Linked DNA regions of Homo sapiens: region 2 is linked to region 1. The links come from fine-mapping of genetic effects on gene expression. A gene starts in region 1. The other region holds a variant in brackets. All regions are shown on one strand. Distances are between the middles of the regions. Region 1 holds the start of CHST4 (carbohydrate sulfotransferase 4). Region 2 overlaps LOC105371334 (a long non-coding RNA gene).

Region 1 (10,269 bases):
CAGATGCTCCTGGGCCCTGGCAGAAGCGAGGTGATGCGAGTCACCAGGGCGCTTCATGGAAGGAGACTCTTCAATAGTGTCCTCGAATCCCACTCTCCCATTGCCAGAATTCCCAGCTGTTTGTGTCTAGGGTGGCCTTTGACATCGACCTTTCTCTTCTGTCTCTCAGCATCTCCCCATGACCCACTGCTGCCAAAAACTACCTTTTTCATTTTTTTTAAATTACTATTTATTCTTTTGGGACAGAGTCTCACTCTGTCAGTGATCTCAGCTCACTGCAACTTCTGCCTCCTGGGTTCAAGTGATTCCTGTGCCTCAGCCTCCCAGGTGGCTGGGATTACAGGTGCCCACCACCGTGCCCAGCTAATTTTTGTGTTTTTAGTAGAGACAGGGTTTCGCCATGTTGGCCAGGCTGGTCTCAAACTCCTAACCTCAAGTGATCCACCTGCCTCGGCCTCCCAAAGTGCTGGGATTACAGGTGTGAGCCACCACGCCTGGCCCAAAATCTTTTTTTTCCTTTTTTAGAGTCGGGGGTCTCACTCTGTTGCCCAGGGTGGAGTACAGTGGCATGATCATAGCTCACTGCAGCCTTGAACTCCTGGGCTCAAGTGATTTTCGATCCTCCTGTCTCAGCCTCCCCAGTAGCTGGGATCACAGGTGTGTCCAATCACACCCAGATAATTTTTTCATTTTTTACTAGAGACTGGCCCTCACTATATTGCCCAGGCTGGTGTCAAACTCCTGACCTCAAGCCACCTTCCAGCCTTGGCCTCCCAAAGTGCTGGGATTACAGGTGTGAGCCACCGCACCTGGCCAAAATATCTTTTTAAAGCATAAGTCTATCAACTTCCTGCTTAAAAATCCTTCAATAAATTTCCAGTGTATATGGGATTAAATAAACATCCCCACACCTCGCACCTGGGGTCCTTCATGGCCTGGTCTTGATTTCCTGTCACTCCCTTCTGTTTTAGTGCCTTAGGCTCCCGACTTTCAGTTCTTCCAAACTTGCCCTGTTATTTAAAAGCCCTGAGATTTTTGCAGGACAGCTACTATTCCTTCAAGAATCTAACCTGCCTTCTCCCTGAAAGGGAGAGCCTGCCTTCTCCCTGAAAGAAGTTCTGTCTCTTTCTCCTGAGACTTTTTTTTTTTAATTTTATTTTTTAGACAGAGTCTTGCTCTGTCGCCCAGGCTGGAGTGCAGTGGCATGATCTCAGCTCACCGCAACCTCTGCCTCCTAGATTCAAGCGATTCTCCTGCCTCAGCCTCCCCAGGAGCTGGGATTACAGCCACGCCCAGCTAATTTTTGTATTTCTAGTGGAAATGGGGATTCGCCATGTTGGTCAGGCTGGTCTCGAACCCCTGACCTCAGGTGATTCTCCCGCCTCGGCCTGCCAAAGTGCTGGGATCACAGGTGTGAAGCACCGCGCCCAGCCCCCTCTTGAGATTAATTTGTTTCCCAGACCTTCTGTTAGCAGCCATCCCTTTTGACAGTAAAAGCCTGTATGGGTGCCTCTCTTTTCTCTGGGCCACTATAGCTTAAGGGAAAGGCTGTATCTTATCTTACTTACACGTACATAACAATTCTACAAATGATCAGGGCTCGGCTCATTAAACACTTGCTAAATAAATGAGTAAGTGAGTAAATAGATGAGTGTGGGCTTGATCTCCTGATCAAGATCACACCGCTGCACTCCAGCCTGGTCAACAGAGCGAAACTTGGTCTCAAAAAAAAAAAAAAAAAAAAAAAAAAAAAAATAGATGAGCATGGGAAGAGGCACAGTAATTGCTAGAAAGCAGAAAACTAAAGGAGCTCCTTCAAGAGAATGAAACATAAGTATCCTTTTCTGAAATGCACACGGACACTCTTCAGCATCAGTGACTAAAATTTAGGTGATTGCATGGAACAGTGAGCACATTACCCATGCCGTCTCAGTTACTTGGACCAAGCTACTAATAAAGTCAGAGGCATGGGTTAGATGCAGTATGGCACAGTAACCCTTGGTCCAAAAAACAGTTACTATACCAAGCATGCATTAATTAAAACCAGGAGGGAAATTATTTTTCTCTTCCTGTATGAAAATTAGTTTTAGAAAACATTTAAAAAATAAAAGCCTCATTGCTGGGTGATAGGCTACCTTGCTTGAATCAGCTCAGTTACTAGGCTAACAAAGCAAAAGCAAAAAAAAAAAAACAAAAAACAAAAACAAAACAAAAAACCCAAACTCAGCACATTCCATCATCACCACCCCAAAAAATTAATTTAAAAAAATGTTGCCCCAACGATGGGTGAACGGTATCATCTTAAAACACAAAGGACAGCCATTTCTGAGGAGTCAAGAGAACCTTAGGAACTTGAAAACGCCACCAAAGGGTGGTGAGAAGGGAGAATCTATGTTTGGCACAGGAACCACGAAGGTGCCAGATGGGTGACCTCAAGCAGCAGCTGATTAGAGTGGGCTGAATTATAGATGTCCCCCAAATCGGTACCATGTAGCCTCGTAGAGACAAAATGGGAAATTCTGAGGGGGAAAAAAACCAGATAGATACTAATTTAAGAAGTCTGGGTTCCAGCCACTGGATGCATTCCTAACTTACACTTCCCATGAGATTATGCCCCTTACAAGTAGAAATTAGATACAGCAGAAGATACCTTGAGCAAAGAGAGAGAGAATGGGGTTGGATTGGGGAAACTGGCATCCTCACAAGCAGCCTGAAGACCTGGAAAACCTCTGAAGCTAGGCACCTGGGTAAAGGGTGTCCATATAACAAACTCTTCCTAGACAGTGTCAGGAGGATTGGACCTGGGTCCCGCCAGGGCTGTGTCACTAGTGCCAAGGACAGTGCATGGCACATAGTAGGTGCTCAAGGAACATCTTTCAACAAATGACAAGTGAACATATATTTGTACAGTGTTTTTTTTTTTACTATATGAGACCCAGAAAGGAAGATTGAGCAAGATATTATAAACCAAAAATAAAATTCTAAGGCCCCCCAACCATCTGAAAGGACTTCCTCCTCAGCCAGGACTCTTTTTTTTTTTTTTTTTTTTGAAATGAAGTCTTGCTCTGTTGTCCAGGCTGGAGTGCAGTGGCACGATCTCAGCTCACTGCAACCTCGACTCCTCAGGTTCAAGCGCTTCTCCTGCCTCAGCCTCCCGAGTGACCTGGCTAATTTTTTGTATTTTTAGTACAGACATGGTTTTGCCATGTTGGCCAGGCAGGTCTCGAACTCCTGACCTCAAGTGACCTCAGTCTCCTAATAGTGCTGTGATTACACCCATGAGCCACTGTGCCCAGCCAGGGGTCTTTTTAAAATTTAACCTGAGAGACTGTTTCAGGCCATGACAAGAAGTGGGGATCTAACATGCCTCATCATACCTCTCCAGCATTAACACCAACACAGACCTTAAGTCTGATAAGAAACATTTTACAACCTATTCTCTCTGAAGCCTGCTATCTGAAGGCTTCCTCTCAGTTGCAGTGAGCCGAGATCGCACCACTGCACTCCAGCCTGGGCGACAGACCCGTACTTTTTTCTTTTCTTTTTTCTTTTTTGAGATGGAGTTTTGCTCTTGTTGCCCAGGCTAGAGTGCAATGGCAGGATCTCGGCTCACTGCAGCCTCCCGGTTTCAAGCGATTCTCCTGCCTCAGCCTCCTGAGTAGCTGGGATTACAGGTGCCTGCCACCATGCCCAGCTAATTTTTTTGGTATTTTTAGTACAGACAGGGTTTCGCCATGTTGGCCGGGCTGGTCTTGAACTCCTGGCCTCAGGTGATCCACCTGCCTCAGCTTCCCAAAGTGCTGGGATTACAGGCGCGAGCCATCGCGCCTGGCTAGATGTATTTCTTAAATGTATTTGATTGAAGTCTCATGTCTCCCTAAAGTGTATAAAACCAAGCTGCACCCCGACCACCTTAGACACATGTTCTCAGGACCTCCTGAGGGCTGTGTCACCGGCCATGGTCACTCATATTTGGCTCAGAATAAATCTCTTCAAATATGTCACAGAGTCTGACTCTTTTCATCGACAATATTACATTTATTTTACACATAGAAAAGTATTTCAATTCCAATTAGAAGTTTCATACTTGTCCAAGGCCATGCAAGATAGACGTATCTTCTACCATAGCTGATATGTTGGCACCATAACTTAATCATATTGCACATGTGCGTGGTGTTCCACATTTTTAAAGCCCTTTTAGCTGCAATTATGATACTGATCGGTTAGATATTTTAGACAGTGATGAGACATTTCTTCATTTTTCAGAATAAATAAACTAAACTTTAATTGACTGGCTCATCCGGTATAAATAGCCTTTTCTGGATCAGAACCCAGGTTTTGGGGATCCCAGGGCTGAGAATTTTCAATGATCACACTGTCCCTCTCCTGAGCTAGAGAAAACCTACAGCTCCTTGCACCTCCTGTCTTCCACTCCCCAGCAGAAAACAGAGGAGAAGCTGCAGGAAGTACAGAAATTTGAGCTCCAAAGCCAGGATCTGAACGAGTCAGTTGGCACCAGGGGACCATCTACAAAATATACATCAGAACAGCCTGATCTGCTCTCTGGGCTCTTTTGGACCCATTTAGGGATAGAGCTAGTGGGGCTTGGGGGCTGCTGGTAAGCAGCTTGTGTTTTATTTTACCCAGAAAATTCCCCAGGTGATCTGATTTATCCCCTCTGCGCAAACCGCCTTCGCCACTGTAATCTCTAGCTTAGCTGCCAGAGGTTATCTGATACTCTTGCTCCAGCAGCTCTGGGTAATGGCTCTGCATTGGAGTCGTACACAGAAATTCTCTTCTTACCTTGTGGCTTGGGCTTCCCTGCTGCTTTTGAGAGGCTCACTGCTAGCCGGGCCATGCGCTTTTCTCCTCTGACTCACCAACTCCCCTCTTGGCTTCCTCCTCCTACTTGCTTTTGCATAACCGTCCCTACTCAGAGCACATTTCACTGTCCCTCCCTTCTGCCAAAAACAAAAAAGGACCCACCTTGCAAGACGGGCTTGAGAAAGCACTCGCTCCCAGGAAGCTGTGAAAGTAACAGCTTTAACACTGCTGAGACTCAAGGGGTGGGGAGACTGCTTGAGGTGGGCTGGGAGAAGCAAATGAGGAAGCATTTTCCCCCAGACTGGAGGCATCCTGGCATGTTGACTACTGAAAGGCAACTGTGAAGGTCAACTCCCTATGGGCAGAGTGGGGAGGTGGGGAAAAAGAGAAAGAGAGAGAGAGAGACCCAGGGAGCTAGTAGATGAGGCTGATAGGGAAATTTCATGACACTTACAAGCCGAAAGGCTACAAAATCTCAAACCTGATTTTTAGACCTTGTTCTTATCTCCAAGGAGAAAATGTGAAAGTTATTTCTTGCATTACACCTGCCTGCTCACTCCACCCTGGGTCTAGGGAGGTAACATTTCTCAGCCTCTGTGTTGTATTCAATATCTTCACCCTTGCTACAAGAGGTAATAAATATTTTCTGGGAGGACATAGATGTACTGGCTTGGTGGTACAGGAGAAAAAAAAGTCCCCTTTAAGAAAAAAAGAAACAAATTATCATTAAAGATTACAACCTCTCCCTTGCTGTGTGCCCTTGGGCAAATCACTTACCTACTCCGTGCTACTTTACACGGTTGTCATGAGTCTGAAACAATGGATGCCCGTGAATAAACGTAAATTGTGGTGGAGAATGGAAGCCTCAGACTTTCAAGTCCAAGATCTTGCCGGGCAAGTCATACCACCTCTTTGAGCCCTAGAATATCATCGGTGTTAAATAAGGGTAACAATATCTATTTTACAGTATTGTTGTGAATGTTAGGATTAATGCGTATGAAGCTCCTAACACAATAATATGACAATATAAGAGTTAAAAAGTGGTTGAATAATAATACCTTCCCACCGCCACCCACCCCCGCAACTCAGCTGCCACTTCCTTTTCCAGACCTTGGAAGAGAGAGAGAGCAGGCAGGGAGTTGTGTGAGCTTTGGGATGATCTTTGCCGATTTCCATCAGCTAAGTCCGCTAAGCACAAATGACAAGAACCTGTGGTGCTTGCCTTGACTTGATTTCAATTGTGTGGCTCTTCCTCCCTTCCTGTTTCTCTCTGGCAGAGAGAAGAGAAATTTCTCTTCCTCCAGTGAAGGACTTTGGGCAGAGGTGTAACTGGAAGCACTAGAACTGGGCAGTCGGTAGTTTTGCTTTTATGCACAAAGAGATGATTCAGGTGCTGGCACGACACAGCGAGATGGCACAAGGCTTCATCATGCTACTCAGAATAGTATGTAATAAATGAACTGTTTATTTCTGTAATTTTCCCATTTAATATTTTCAAATCGTGGTTGATGATGAGTAGTTAAAACTGGGAAACAAAACCGTGGATAAAGAGGGGACTCCTGTAGTTTTATTCCAGCCCTTTCTAACATTCTTTTCGTGTTTTTCCAGCGCCTTCCCAAATATAGTGAGGTCACTCAAATACACCATAACCCCAAGTAATTCAGATCACCTGCCATCTTTCCCGTGCTAGGAATTCATGCTGGCAGAATGCCAAGCAGCTGAAGAAAGGCATCCTCTGGTCACTAGTATACGGTGGTGACCAGCATGTTCAGATACTGGACTTCCAAGGGTCTACCACATTCCACAGCACTGGGAAGAAATTTGAATGCTGGTGTCTGATATCCAGGCCTTCTTGTGGAAGTCCTGCAGCCCACGTCTCTAAGGCAGCACTGTCCAATAACAGTCTCTGTGATGATGGAAATGTTCCATATCTGCACTATACAGTAGCCACTGTCCACCTGAAACGTGCTAGTGCAACCATATTGGATCGTGCAGTCAAGTAAGAGATCTAATCTTTTTCTTTTTGAGTCTCCAAAATCTGATAACAGATATAGACCTCTGTAGAAAAATGTACAATTGCTCATATACAAACACAAAATCATGTGCAATGCCAAGGAATCCCAAGTTTAAAATCCGTACAAAAGGCTGTGTGTACTTGAAGTGATTTAGACAATTGTCTCCTGGGGACCACTATTCAGCGGAGTCGCTGATCTCATCTTTGCCCTTGGAAGTTTACCATCTTTACTGTCTGGGGACCCACCTGAGTGGTGAAGAGACCTGGGGTCAGCTACTGACCTAGACTCTGATTTTCTCAGGGGTCAAAAGGATCTTTCTGCTGGTTATACTACCTACTCCTGCTACCTTACCCTGACCATCACTCCAAATGAGATTGCAGTTTCTTCACTTCCACACTTACCTACATATCTTTTCTGTCCCTAGTGACACTGAAAGGACAGTGATGCTTCCTTGAGTTTCTTTTCTTATGGGGGCTCTAGCATTCCTCATTTTTTTACGCTAAGCATCAGCCTGCAATGCAGATGTCCAGGCCTGAAACTGTTGAGGAACATGTCACTCCCTACATTGGTCACCAGCCCTGTTTTGCTTACCAAAGCCAGTGTCTGGCCTGAGTAGGTCACTGGCTAAGTGGCTGAGTTTAGAGAATAGATTCTGGAGGGCTTTGTAGTTTGGCTAAGTTTCTGAAGTCTATAGAGACTGGATCTTAGCATCACAGGGAGCCAGCGCCTTCGGAAGAAGTGTCTGCAAGCCAGGAAGGAAATCTTGGTTGCTGTAAATCCTATTATCAAATGGGTAATTGCTTTCAGTAGAACTTGCTTCCTTGAGCTGGGCCCTGGTGGTGGACATCTGTGTAGGGAATCCCCCAGCAATACGATGTCCCTTATCTGTGTTAGAAATATTTGTTTCAACAGTGGGAGAATAAGTTGGACTAGAATAGATTAGGGAAAAAACGAACACAGTTTTAAGTTTTTCACTGGTTCTTGCTTTTTTGTTGCTCCCTTGAAGGGCAGAGGGGATGGGAAAATAGGAAATAATGAGCCAGGAGCTCCTAGTAAAACTCAGGCATCCCTTATATGTCTTTGATGGTTCAGGAACATAACATTGCTGCATAATTGTGGCTTTATCTGGAATCAGGCTCCTGAAATTCTACCTCTGGTCTTCCAAAAACTGTCAGAGACTGCTTCAGGTGACCCGTGATGATTTAGTCAGGGAGTTTCTGGGGATGAAATCTGGGGAGACTATCAGTGTGTCTTCCGGTGGACTGTCACCTCATGTATCACATTGATCACCAATGTCTGTCTAAAGGTAAAATAACCTTAAATAGCTGTCAAATTTGCCCTCCTTTATATGTCAACAGCCCCTGTCTTCAGTCTGCCTTTCAATTTTTTTTTTGCTTGAATTTCTGCCAACAGTCTCTCACTTTTTCCCATATCCCCAATCTTATGCCCTCCAGCCTTCCCACTCTATGCTGCAGCTAGAATGATCTTTCCTAGGATGGATCTGATCCCCAGCATTTCCCTGATGAAAATGCTACAAAAGAGCTCATTAGAGACACAGTACAAATTCCTCGAGATGCTTAGTTAGGCACCTTTTAAGAGTTGGTGTCTCTCGGCCAGGTGTGGTGGCTCACGCCTGTAATCCCAGCACTTTGGGAGGCCAAGGTGGGTGAATCGCCAGAGGTCAGGAGTTCGAGACCAGCCTGGCCAACATGGCGAAACCGTGTCTCTACTAAAAATACAAAAATCCACCAGGTGTGGTGGCATAGACCTGTAATCCCAGCTACTCGAGAGGCCGAGGCAGGAGAATAGCTTGAACTCAGGGAGTGGAGGTTGCAGGTAGGTGGGTAGATGATGTGCTGGGAATTTGTGGAAACTCCCTTCTTATTGCTTTTATTTTCCTAGTGAGTGAGGGGATAAGGTTGTCAGCTGAGTCTGAGGATGGGGAAGGAGTTAATGGAAGCCTGAAGAGAGAGGAAGATATGGAGTGGCCACCTGTGAGGATACGTTAGTGACTATGCTAGGGTAATGAGGTAAGATAGATGAGTGAAGCCGAAGGTGAGTGGTCATAAACTTAAAATGAAAGCAGATAGCAGAGGTGTGTAGTTTTTCCAGCCCTGTTCGGCTACTACTACTTGTGTGGGGATAAGTGGAGAGTTAGATTTAAGTAAGACCTCTGCTTTTCTGGAAGAGTACAATGAAGTATTAGAGAGGCAAGGGAGCCTAGGGGATATTCAAAGGTGTAATTATGATAATGAACCATGGAATCTAAGCTGGTTAAGAGGAGAAAGAAGGACAGAAAGATTATAGCTGAACTAAGTTGGAGGGCAAGTTTTTTGGGAGTGAGGAGGTCAAGGATTTGAGACATCAGGGCTTTGAAAGTATCATCTCTAAGGATATTGAGTTCATGTAGAATTGTCCCAGGAGTAGAGTTGGAGAGTGGCAGGGGTCATATGACTGTAATGAGGGCCATATAGTCTGGTTAATATCAGAGTGAAAGCTGGAAATGTTTAGGAAGGAGGGAGCCAGAATAATCTGGAAGCAGCAATGAGGAACAAGAAAACTTATTCCATTGTGGAGTGTAAGAAACAGCCACCACTTGAGAGGACTGCAGAGAAAGCAGTGTCTTCAAGGGAGACCTAGTTTCCTTTAGAGCAAGAAAGTGAAGAGGAAATTAAGACACTTCGAGAAAAGATGGATTTTGTGGATCCCAACAAGGGTGTCGGGATGGGGAGGGTGGGAAATGGGGTCAGAAAATGAGACATTTGGAGCCATTTGGGATGAAACACAAGGGATAAGGAACAACTGAGGATCCTGGGCTACTTGTGTGACTGGCATAAACCAGGATAAAGGAAATAATAACAGATAATGATGGCCTCCAGGAAGATAGTGGTGGCCAAACTGAAAACTTGGGGAAGGGCAGTGTGAAGTACCTGCTGGAAGAGGCTGGGGTGCTCTCTCTTTACTCTTGGCAATGGTGACGTGGAGGCCAGGGTAGGGGTGTTGTTGAAACTCTAGACATTGAGAAACTGCATCACCACTTCTCCAAACAATGCAAAGCATCTGGAGTCAGCTTGGTTGAAGGAACAAGATTTTTGGGCTGGGCATGGTGGCTTATGCCTGTAATCCCGGCACTTTGGGAGGCCAAGGCGGGCGGATCACCTGAGGTCGGGAGTTCGAGACCAGCCTGACCAACATGGAGAAACTCCATCTCTACTAAAAATACAAAATTAGCTGGGTGTGGTGGCTCATGCCTGTAATCCCAGCCACTCGGGAGGCTGGGGCAGGAGAATCGCTTGAACCTGGGAGGCGGAGGCTGTGGTGAGCTGAGGTCATGCCATTGCACTCCAGCCTGGGCAACAAGAGTGAAATTCCATCTCAGAGAGTGAGAGAGAGAGAGAGAGAGAGAGAGAGAGAGAGAGAGAGAGAGAGA
Region 2 (10,269 bases), 79 kb before region 1:
CCTCAGCCTCCAAGTAGCTGGGATTACAGGTGTGTGCCACCAAACCTGACTAATTTTTGTATTTTTAGTAGAGAAGAGGTTTCACGATGTTGGCCAGGCTGATCTCAAACTCCTGACCTCAAATGATCCACTCGCCTTGGCCTCCCAAAGTGCTGGGATTACAGGCGTGAGCCACTGCGCCCGGGCTGGGTTGGCGCGCCCAGGCTGGGTTGGATGCTTTTATACCATCTTGAGGTTACAGGAAGAATAGGGGTTGGACTCTGGCACAACAGACTATGGGAGAGGGAAAGGAGCAGGCCTGGCTAGCGAAGGTAGTCTTGTTATGTAGCTAAAGTTTCACAGGTAACCACTCTCAGAGAGAATAGATATGAATGTTTCTTTCAAACCTTTATTTTTTATTTTTATTTTTTGTAGAGATGGCGGGGGGGGGGTCTCACTATGTTGCCCAGGGTGGTCTCGAACTCATGGGCTCAAGTGATCTGCCAGCCTTGGCCTCCCACACAGCTAACCCCTTTCAAACCTTTAAAGGTATTAGACACTTACTTAACCTTCCCTAGATTTGGACAAAGGAGGGCTTCAGAGAAAGCCTGGCTGCATCAAGGCAGATTTTCTCTATAGATAAAAATCTCTCCCACAAAAGACGGCTTTTCAGCTATTCTTGTATTTCCAGTTCTTCTGAATAGCCAGCTTGAAATGTGTCAAAGAAGTATATTTTGGGGCAAAAGTTTTTCGTTTCCTTTAGTGACTTCCAGGAGAGAGAGTGCTTAAGGAGAGTTTTTAGGAATGAGTAGGACTGTAATCCTTCCTTTTTTTTTTTTTTTTTTTGAGATGGAGTCTTGCTCCATGGTCCAGGCTGGAGTGCAGTGGCAGGATCTCAGCTCACTGCAACCTCTGCCTCCCGGGTTCAAGCAATTCTCCTGCCTCAGCCCCCTGAGTAGCTGAGATTACAGGCATGTGTCACCACACCCAGCTAATTTTTGTATTTTTAGTAGAGATGGGGTTTCACCATGTTGGCCAGGCTGGTCTCGAACTCCTGACCTCAAGTGATCCACCTGCCTCAGCCTCCCAAAGAACTGGGATTACAGGCATGAGCCACCACTCCCGGCCCTGTAATCCTTACGTTTGAACCACAAGGGAAGAAGTAAAGGGAAAAAAGGCAGAAGAGGGAGGCAGGGGTCAGATTATAAGAAGCCTGCAAAGCCAGGCATATGCAGTTAGTCATTTCTCCTACTCTTCTCACCCAAGACACAGTCTGACTCCTTCCTGGCAACCTGAAAATGATCTGTCTAAGATCATTGACATCTTCCAAACACAAATGACACGTTTCAATCTTGAACTTACTCAGCTTCTCTGTAATAAAAATTTTACAGCTACCAGTAGCAGCTGACATTCATTGAGAACCTGACATTCACCGAGTATTTTGAGCATCTGTAGTTCATTGAATATTTATTTGACCATCAGTGACTCATTGTTCTCAGGCAATGAGTCACTGATCGTGTATTCTCTCTGGGTCTGTGGTCTCCAAGCAGGTGCACACAACCTCTCAATGTGGTGAAGGGAAAAAATCCTAGACCTCTATTTAATCTGGAAATATTGTCTTTTTGGGAATCTCTTTTTCTGTATCTGATTTATAATGTAAATGGTATGTTAATACAGCAGTTCATAGATATAATTTATAAATACATGTGTTCATGTTGGGGTTAGGTTTGAGAGTACAGGCTGTATGGAGCCACCAGAGATGGCTTTTAATCAGAGAAGTACCTCAGTCAAATTTGTTATAAAAATAACATTCCAGGCCAGGCACGGTGGCTCATGCCTATAATTCCAGCACTTTGGGAGGCCAACGCGGGCGGACCACAAGGTCAGGGGTTTGAGACCAGCCTGGCCAACATGGTGAAACCCCGTCTCTACTAAAAATATGAAAATTAGCCGGGCGTGTTGGCACGCACCTGTAGTCCCAGCTACTCAGGAGGCTGAGGCAGGAGAATCGCTTGAATCTGGGAGGCAGAGGTTGCAGTGAGCCTAGATGGCGCCATTGCACTCCAGCCTGGGCGACACAGCAAGACTCCGTCTCAAAACAAAAAAACCAAAAAGCATTTCAGGCTAAGCGTGGCGGCTCATGCCTGTAACCGCAACACTTCGGGAGGACAGAGCAGAATGATTGCTGGAGACCAGTCTGGGCTACATAGGCAGACCCCTATCTGTTAAAAAAAATTTTTTAGCCGGGTGTGGTGGTGTGTGTCTGTAGTCTCAGCTACTTGGGAGGCTGAGGTGGGATGATCATTTGAGCCCAGGATGTCGAGGCTGCAGTGAGTCATGATTGCACCACTGCACTCCAGTCTGGGCGACAGAGTGAGACTCTATCTCAAAAAAGAAAAATAAAAAATAAATAACATTCCAAAATATTCTGGAGGGAGAGCAGGTCCCAGCTGAGGCCTAGGGAGGGAGAAAAAGTGAACGTGAAAGATATTAAGGGTGATTACCTTAGCAAGAAGGAGCAGGTGATCAATAGCATTAAATGAGAACAGTGAGTTACTGATGATTCAATAATGAACTACAAATGCTGAAAATATTCTCTACCACACTGCGGATCAGAAATTCAAGAGCGGCTTGACTGTGGGTTTGTGAGTCTCCCTCGACATTACAGCCAAGAGGTTGTCAGGGACTGCAGTCATTTAGGCTTTAATGGGGCTTATTCTGTGGAAGGGCTGTGTATGCAAAGTAACCCCCAAACACAGAAGGAGCGGAGAAACTAAAGAACAAGGCAGGTGAATCCAGTTTGTCAGTAGAGGATGAATTATTGGGGAATTTACAGGTGGAAGTGTGGTCTTGGACGGCAGCAACATAGGTAGATCACTGTACCGTTACTTCCCAGAGGGTTTATACGCCAGAGGGAAGGGGTGTACATGCCTGCCGTATAGACGCAATTAAAGGAATTAAAGGCAGCCCTCCAGAACAGGCAAGAATGCTATGTGTGTCACAGCCTATAATTTGCACGATAACTTCAAGGTTGCTTTGGCTTAAAGGGAGGATTTATAGTGAGTACATATTCTTACATAAAGGGCAGTAAACAACGTTGGAATCAGGAGGCACTCCTGGGGACTGGGGTTAATCAGAAGTCAGCATGGTGGATTAGCATCCAAGATGGAGACACCTGAGTCTTCACAGGGCTTGAGGATCTCCTCCAAAGCTGGCTTGCCCAAGGTGAGCCTCTCCACAGGGCTGCTGTGGTGTCAGCATAATATGGCAGCTGCCTTTTCCCAGAGCAAGAGAGCCAAGAGACCAAGATGGAAACTTAATGCCTTTAAAAAAAAAACGATATTTTTTTTGAGATGGAGTTTTTGCTCTGTCTCCCAGGCTGGAGTGCAGTGGCGCAATCTTGGCTCATTGCAACCTCTGCCTCCCAGGTTCAAGTGATTCTCCTGCCTTAGCCTCCCGAGTACTTGGGATTACAGGTGTGCACCACCATGTCTGGCTAATTTTTGTATAATTAGTAGAGACAGGCTTTTGCCATATTGGCCAGGCTGGTCTCGAACTCCTGGCCTCAAGTGATCCACCCGCCTCGGCCTCCCCAAGTTCTGGGATTATGGGTGTGAGCCACCGTGTCCAGCCTGCAATGCCTTTTTTGAGTTTTACCTTGGAAGCCACATGCTATTAGTTCCACAGTATTCTATTGGTCACACAAGCCAGCCCTGGAATGTGGGAGGAACACAGCAAGGTCTAAATTACAGAAGGCAAGGGTCATTGGGACTGTCTTGGAGACTGGTATCCCAAATGGGAATTATAGCTTTTTTTTTTTTTTGAGACAGAGTTTTGCTTTTGTCGCCCAGGCTGGAGTGCAATGGCACGATCTTGGCTCACTGCAACCTCTGCCTCCCAGGTTCAAGCGATTCTCCTGCCTTAGCCTACCCGGTAGCTGGGATTACAGGCGCCTGCCACCATGCCCAGCTAATTTTTGTATTTTTAATAGAGATGGGTTTTCGCCATGTTGGCCAGGCTGGTCTTGAACTCCTGACCTCAGGTGATCCACCCACCTTGGCCTCCCAAAGTGCTGGGATTACAGGCGTGAGCCACTGCACCCGGCCCTTTTTTTTTTTTTTTTTTTGAGATGAAGTTGATGTTGCACTATGTTGCCCAGGTTGGTCTCAAGCAGTTCTCCCGCCTCAGCCTCCCGAGTAGCTGGGATTACAGGCACATGCCATGGCACCCAGCTTTATCACTCTTCTTCTGATATATAATATCCTTAAGAATTTTCCCTTTGGCTTAGGATTGCCTTGGCGATGCGGGCTCTTTTTTGGTTCCATATGAACTTTCAAGTAGTTTTTTCCAATTCTGTGAAGAAAGTCATTGGTGGCTTTATGGGGATGGCATTGAATCTGTAAATTACCTTGGGCACTATGGCCATTTTCACGATATTGATTCTTCCTA[T/C]CCATGAGCAAGGAATGTTCTTCCATTTGTTTGTATCCTCTTTTATTTCCTTGAGCAGTGGTTTGTAGTTCTCCTTGAAGAGGTCCTTCACATCCCTTGTAAGTTGGATTCCTAGGTATTTTATTCTCTTTGAAGCAATTGTGAATGGGAGTTCACCCATGATTTGGCTCTCTGTTTGTCTGTTGTTGGTGTATAAGAATGCCTGTGATTTTTGTACATTGATTTTGTATCCTGAGACTTTGCTGAAGTTGCTTATCAGCTTAAGGAGATTTTGGGCTGAGACAATGGGGTTTTCTAGATATACAATCATGTCATCTGCAAACAGGGACAATTTGACTTCCTCTTTTCCTAATTGAATACCCTTTATTTCCTTCTCCTGCCTAATTGCCCTGGCCAGAACTTCCAACACTATGTTGAATAGGAGTGGTGAGAGAGGGCATCCCGGTCTTGTGCCAGTTTTCAAAGGGAACGCTTCCAGTTTTTGCCCATTCAGTATGATATTGGCTGTGGGTTTGTCATAGACAGCTCTTATTATTTTGAAATACGTCCCATCAATACCTAATTTATTGAGAGTTTTTAGCATGAAGCATTGTTGAATTTTGTCAAAGGCTTTTTCTGCATCTATTGAGATAATCATGTGGTTTTTGTCTTTGGCTCTGTTTATATGCTGGATTACATTTATTGATTTGCGTATATTGAACCAGCCTTGCACCCCATGGATGAAGCCCACTTGATCATGGTGGATAAGCTTTTTGATGTGCTGCTGGATTCGTTTTGCCAGTATTTTACTGAGGATTTTTGCATCAATGTTCATCAAGGATATTGGTCTAAAATTCTCTTTTTTGGTTGTGTCTCTGTCAGGCTTTGGTATCAGAATGATGCTGGCCTCATAAAATGAGTTAGGGAGGATTCCCTCTTTTTCTATTGATTGGAATAGTTTCAGAAGGAATGGTACCAGTTCCTCCTTGTACCTCTGGTAGAATTCGGCTGTGAATCCATCTGGTCCTGGACTCTTTTTGGTTGGTAAACTATTAATTATTGCCACAATTTCAGCTCCTGTTATTGGTCTATTCAGAGATTCAACTTCTTTCTGGTTTAGTCTTGGGAGAGTGTATGTGTCGAGGAATTTATCCATTTCTTCTAGATTTTCTAGTTTATTTGCGTAGAGGTGTTTGTAGTATTCTCTGATGGTAGTTTGTATTTCTGTGGGATCGGTGGTGATATCCCCTAAGCCAAAAGAACAAAGCTGGAGGCATCACACTACCTGACTTCAAACTATACTACAAGGCTACAGTAACCAAAACAGCATGGTACTGGTACCAAAACAGAGATATAGATCAATGGAACAGAACAGAGCCCTCAGAAATAATGCCACATATCTACAACTATCTGATCTTTGACAAACCTGAGAAAAACAAGCAATGGGGAAAGGATTCCCTATTTAATAAATGGTGCTGGGAAAACTGGCTAGCCATATGTAGAAAGCTGAAACTGGATCCCTTCCTTACACCTTATACAAAGATCAATTCAAGATGGATTAAAGACTTAAACGTTAGACCTAAAACCATAAAAACCCTAGAAGAAAACCTAGGCATTACCATTCAGGACATAGGCATGGGCAAGGACTTCATGTCCAAAACACCAAAAGCAATGGCAACAAAAGACAAAATTGACAAATGGGATCTAATTAAACTAAAGAGCTTCTGCACAGCAAAAGAAACTACCATCAGAGTGAACAGGCAACCTACAAAATGGGAGAAAATTTTCACAACCTACTCATCTGACAAAGGGCTAATATCCAGAATCTACAATGAACTCAAACAAATTTACAAGAAAAAAACAAACAACCCCATCAAAAAGTGGGCGAAGGACATGAACAGACACTTCTCAAAAGAAGACATTTATGCAGCCAAAAAACACATGAAAAAATGCTCATCATCACTGGCCATCAGAGAAATGCAAATCAAAACCACAATGAGATACCATCTCACACCAGTTAGAATGGCAATCATTAAAAAGTCAGGAAACAACAGGTGCTGGAGAGGATGTGGAGAAATAGGAACACTTTTACACTGTTGGTGGGACTGTAAACTAGTTCAACCATTGTGGAAGTCAGTGTGGCGATTCCTCAGGGATCTAGAACTAGAAATACCATTTGACCCAGCCATCCCATTACTGGGTATATACCCAAAGGACTATAAATCATGCTGCTATAAAGACACATGCACACGTATGTTTATTGCGGCATTATTCACAATAGCAAAGACTTGGAACCAACCCAAATGTCCAACAATGATAGACTGGATTAAGAAAATGTGGCACATATACACCATGGAATACTATGCAGCCATAAAAATGATGAGTTCATGTCCTTTGTAGGGACATGGATGAAATTGGAAATCATCATTCTCAGTAAACTATCGCAAGAACAAAAAACCAAACACCACATATTCTCACTCATAGGTGGGAATTGAACAATGAGATCACATGGACACAGGAAGGGGAATATCACACTCTGGGGACTGTGGTGGGGTGGGGGGAGGGGGGAGGGATAGCATTGGGAGATATACATAATGCTAGATGACGAGTTAGTGGGTGCAGCGCACCAGCATGGCACATGTATACATATGTAACTAACCTGCACAATGTGCACATGTACCCTAAAACTTAAAGTATAATAAAAAAAAAAAAAAGAATTTTCCCAGATTGTGACGCCTTTTTCAAAGCATCCCTTGTTTTCAGAAAAGGTCTATAAAATCATGTATATATATTAATTTTATTTATTTATTTTTTTAGACAGAGTCTCAGTCTGTCACCCAGGCTGGAGTGCAATGGTAGAATCTTGGCTCACTGCAACCTCCGCCTCCTGGGTTCAAGTTATTCTCCTGTCTCAGCCTCCTGAGTAGCTGGGATTACAGGTGCACACCACCACGTACAGCTAATTTTTGTATTTTTAGTAGAGACAGAATTTTGCCATGTTGGTCAGGCTGGTCTCAAACTCCTGTCCTCAAGCAATACACCCATCTTGGCTTCCCAAACAGCTGGGATTACAGGAGTGAGCCAGTACTCCTAGCCTTATTAATTTTAAAAGTAATGTAATAATGTAAAAAATAACCCCTCCTCTAACTATGTACTATTTTCATTTTTGCATATCCTATAAAGGCTTTGTCTGCAAAAATATTATTTACATTTTATTTATTATTATTATTATTATTATTTTGAGACAGAGTCTCGCTCTGCCACCCAGGCTGGAGTGCAGTGGCGCAATTTTGGCTCACTGCAAGCTCTGCCTCCCGGGTTCATGCCATTCTCCTGCCTCACCCTCTCCAAGTAGCTGGGACTACAGGTGCCCGCCACCACGCCTGGATACTTTCTTGTATTTTCAGTAGAGACGGGGTTTCTCCATGTTGGTGGGGCTGGTCTCGAACTCCCAACCTCAGGTGATCCTCCCGCCTCGGCCTCCCAAAGTGCTGGGATTACAGGCATGAGCCACCGCGCCTGGCCTTCTATGCACTGATCTTTACTGCATTATCTTACATATTTCTCAAAAACTCTGTGAAATAGGAAGATGATGATGATGATGATTATTATTATTTTGAGAGCAAGAGGGATCTCGCTATTTTGCCAAAGCTTATCTTGAACTCCTGGGCTCAAGCAGTCTTCCTGCCTCAGCTTCCCGAGTAGCTAGGATTGCAGGCACACGCCACCATGCCCAGCTCAAAGTAGGAAAATTATTATCTTCGTTTTGCGGGTGAGGAAGTGGAAGTTAAGTAACTCATCCAAGGTCACAGTTGACTTAAGTGGTAGATACTGGATTCAAAATCTGGGTTTCTCTAATACTGAAGTCCAGGATTTTAAACACTATAGACCAAAGATTTATTTCCACGCCATTTATTTTTTAGGATACATTCTCAAGAGTAAAATTCCTGGACCGAAGAATAGAGATCTTTTTTTTTTTTTGAGACGGAGTCTTGCTCTGTCACCCAGGCTGGAGTGCAGTGGTACCATCTCGGCTCACTGCAAGCTCCACCTCCTGCGTTCACGCCGTTCTCCTGCCTCAGCCTCCTGAGTAGCTGGGACTTCAGGCGCCCGCCACCATGCCCGGCTAATTTTTTGGATTTTTAGTAGAGATGGAGTTTCACCGTGTTAGCCAGGATGGTCTTGATCTCCTGATCTCTTGATCTGCCTGCTTCGGCTTCCCAAAGTGCTGGGATTACAGGCATGAGCCACTGCGCCCGGCTGAGATCTTTTTGTGTCACAATGTGTTTTGCCACTTTGTTTTTCCAAACAAAGAGAACTGTTGTGGCCTACATCTGAAACATAGCCATAGCAGATTGGAGTCCTGTGTAGTTATTTGTCTCTCTTCTGGGCCTCTCCACGGTTTGAGGACTGCACAGTGCCCTCTGAACATCGTTCTGTTTTCTGTCATAGCACCCATGGATGAAGTCCAGGAGGTGCTGGAGAAAACTGCAGTTCTCTAGACCTGAAGAGGTCAGTGATGACACATGGACAGTCCTTGCCAAGGAACGGCACCTGCATCAGCCCATCTGTGGGCCTGGGCGACCTTCTGCACACTGATGTTCGCTGTGTGCCCTATCCTGCTCTCATGCCCCGCCTCTCCCAATCGTACCTTGGTGTTGGTGATTCCCAACGTGGGTTTCACAATCTCCCAAGGAAGGTGGATGAAAGCAAGAAGCAGGCTAGGACCAAGGAGGGTGGAACTCTGGAACTCTGACTCTAAGAGCCAGTTTCCAGTACAGTCTGGACACAAACAAAGAGTGCTGTTCACCACGTTGAGACTTCTCCATTCAGCATCTTTTCCTTCTCTGGGAATGCATGTCACCCCCAGCAGGCTGCAGTCTTTACCTCCACATCCCCTATCCCCCAGAATTTGCTCCAAGTTAACTTTCACACAGAGGAACAAATGATCTATTTCTTTTTTTCTGTTTCTTAATTTTTTTTTTTAATTTAGAGACAGGGTCTTGCTCCGTGGCCGAGGCTGGAGTGCAGCGGTATGATCATAGCTCACTGCAGCCTCAAACTCTCGGGCTCAAGCCATCCTCCCACCTTGGCCTCCCAAGCAGCCAGGACAATCTGCAGGTGCTAATTTTTAATTTTTTTTGTTTATTTATGTTTTTTTAAAAATTTTTATTTATTTATTTATTTTTTTGAGTCAGCCTCACTCAGGCTGGAGTGCAGTGGCGTGATCTCAGCTCACTGCAACCTCTGCCTCCCGGGTTCAAGTGATTCTCCTGCCTCAGCCTCTGGAGTAGCTGGGATTATAGGCACATGCCACCATATCCAACTTATTTTTGTATTTTTTTTGTAGAGACGAGGTTTCACCATGTTGGCCAGGCTGGAGCAAAAAGTTTTTTGTTTTTTATTTTTTTGAGATGGAATCTTGCTCTGTCGCCCAGGCTGGAGTGCAGTGGCGCGATCTCGGCTCGCTGCAAGCTCCGCCTCCCAGGTTCACGCCATTCCTCTTGCCTCAGCCTCCCGAGTAGCTGGGACTCCAGGCACCCGCCACCACACCCGGCTAATTTTTTTGTATTTTTAGTAGAGACGGGGTTTCACCGTGTTAGCCAGGATGGTCTCGATCTCGTGGCCTCGTGATCCACCCGCCTCGGCCTCCCGAAGTGCTGGGATTACAGGCGTGAGTTACTGCACCCAGCCTGGAGTAAAAAGTTTTAAGCAAGGATGAAGGAGAGAAATGTGACATGATCAGAAAATACTTTGGGATGATATTACTCTGACTGCAATACGGAGAACAGGTTAGGATGAGGGAAGATTACCAAGGAGGCGATTACACATAGTTCTGCCAAGAGGTGATGGTGATGTAGC

What was found. PIP is the estimated chance that this variant, and not a neighbour inherited with it, causes the effect.
Region 2: its variant is the best candidate, but not a certain one, in a credible set for the expression of CHST4 in adrenal gland (GTEx, PIP 0.53).

The regions. Positions count from the first base shown.
Region 1 is chr16:71,521,030-71,531,298 of GRCh38, reverse strand. CHST4 (carbohydrate sulfotransferase 4) reads right to left here and starts at 4,873. Exons shown (of 2, transcript NM_001166395.2): 1 at 4,804-4,873. RefSeq lists an enhancer at 4,630-5,240.
Region 2 is chr16:71,599,675-71,609,943 of GRCh38, reverse strand. All of the region lies in intron 2 of LOC105371334 (a long non-coding RNA gene), which reads left to right. Among named protein-coding and RNA genes, the nearest start is that of MARVELD3, 21 kb to the left of the region's middle. RefSeq lists a silencer at 1,921-1,970. The variant T/C (reference allele first, on the strand shown) is at 4,429.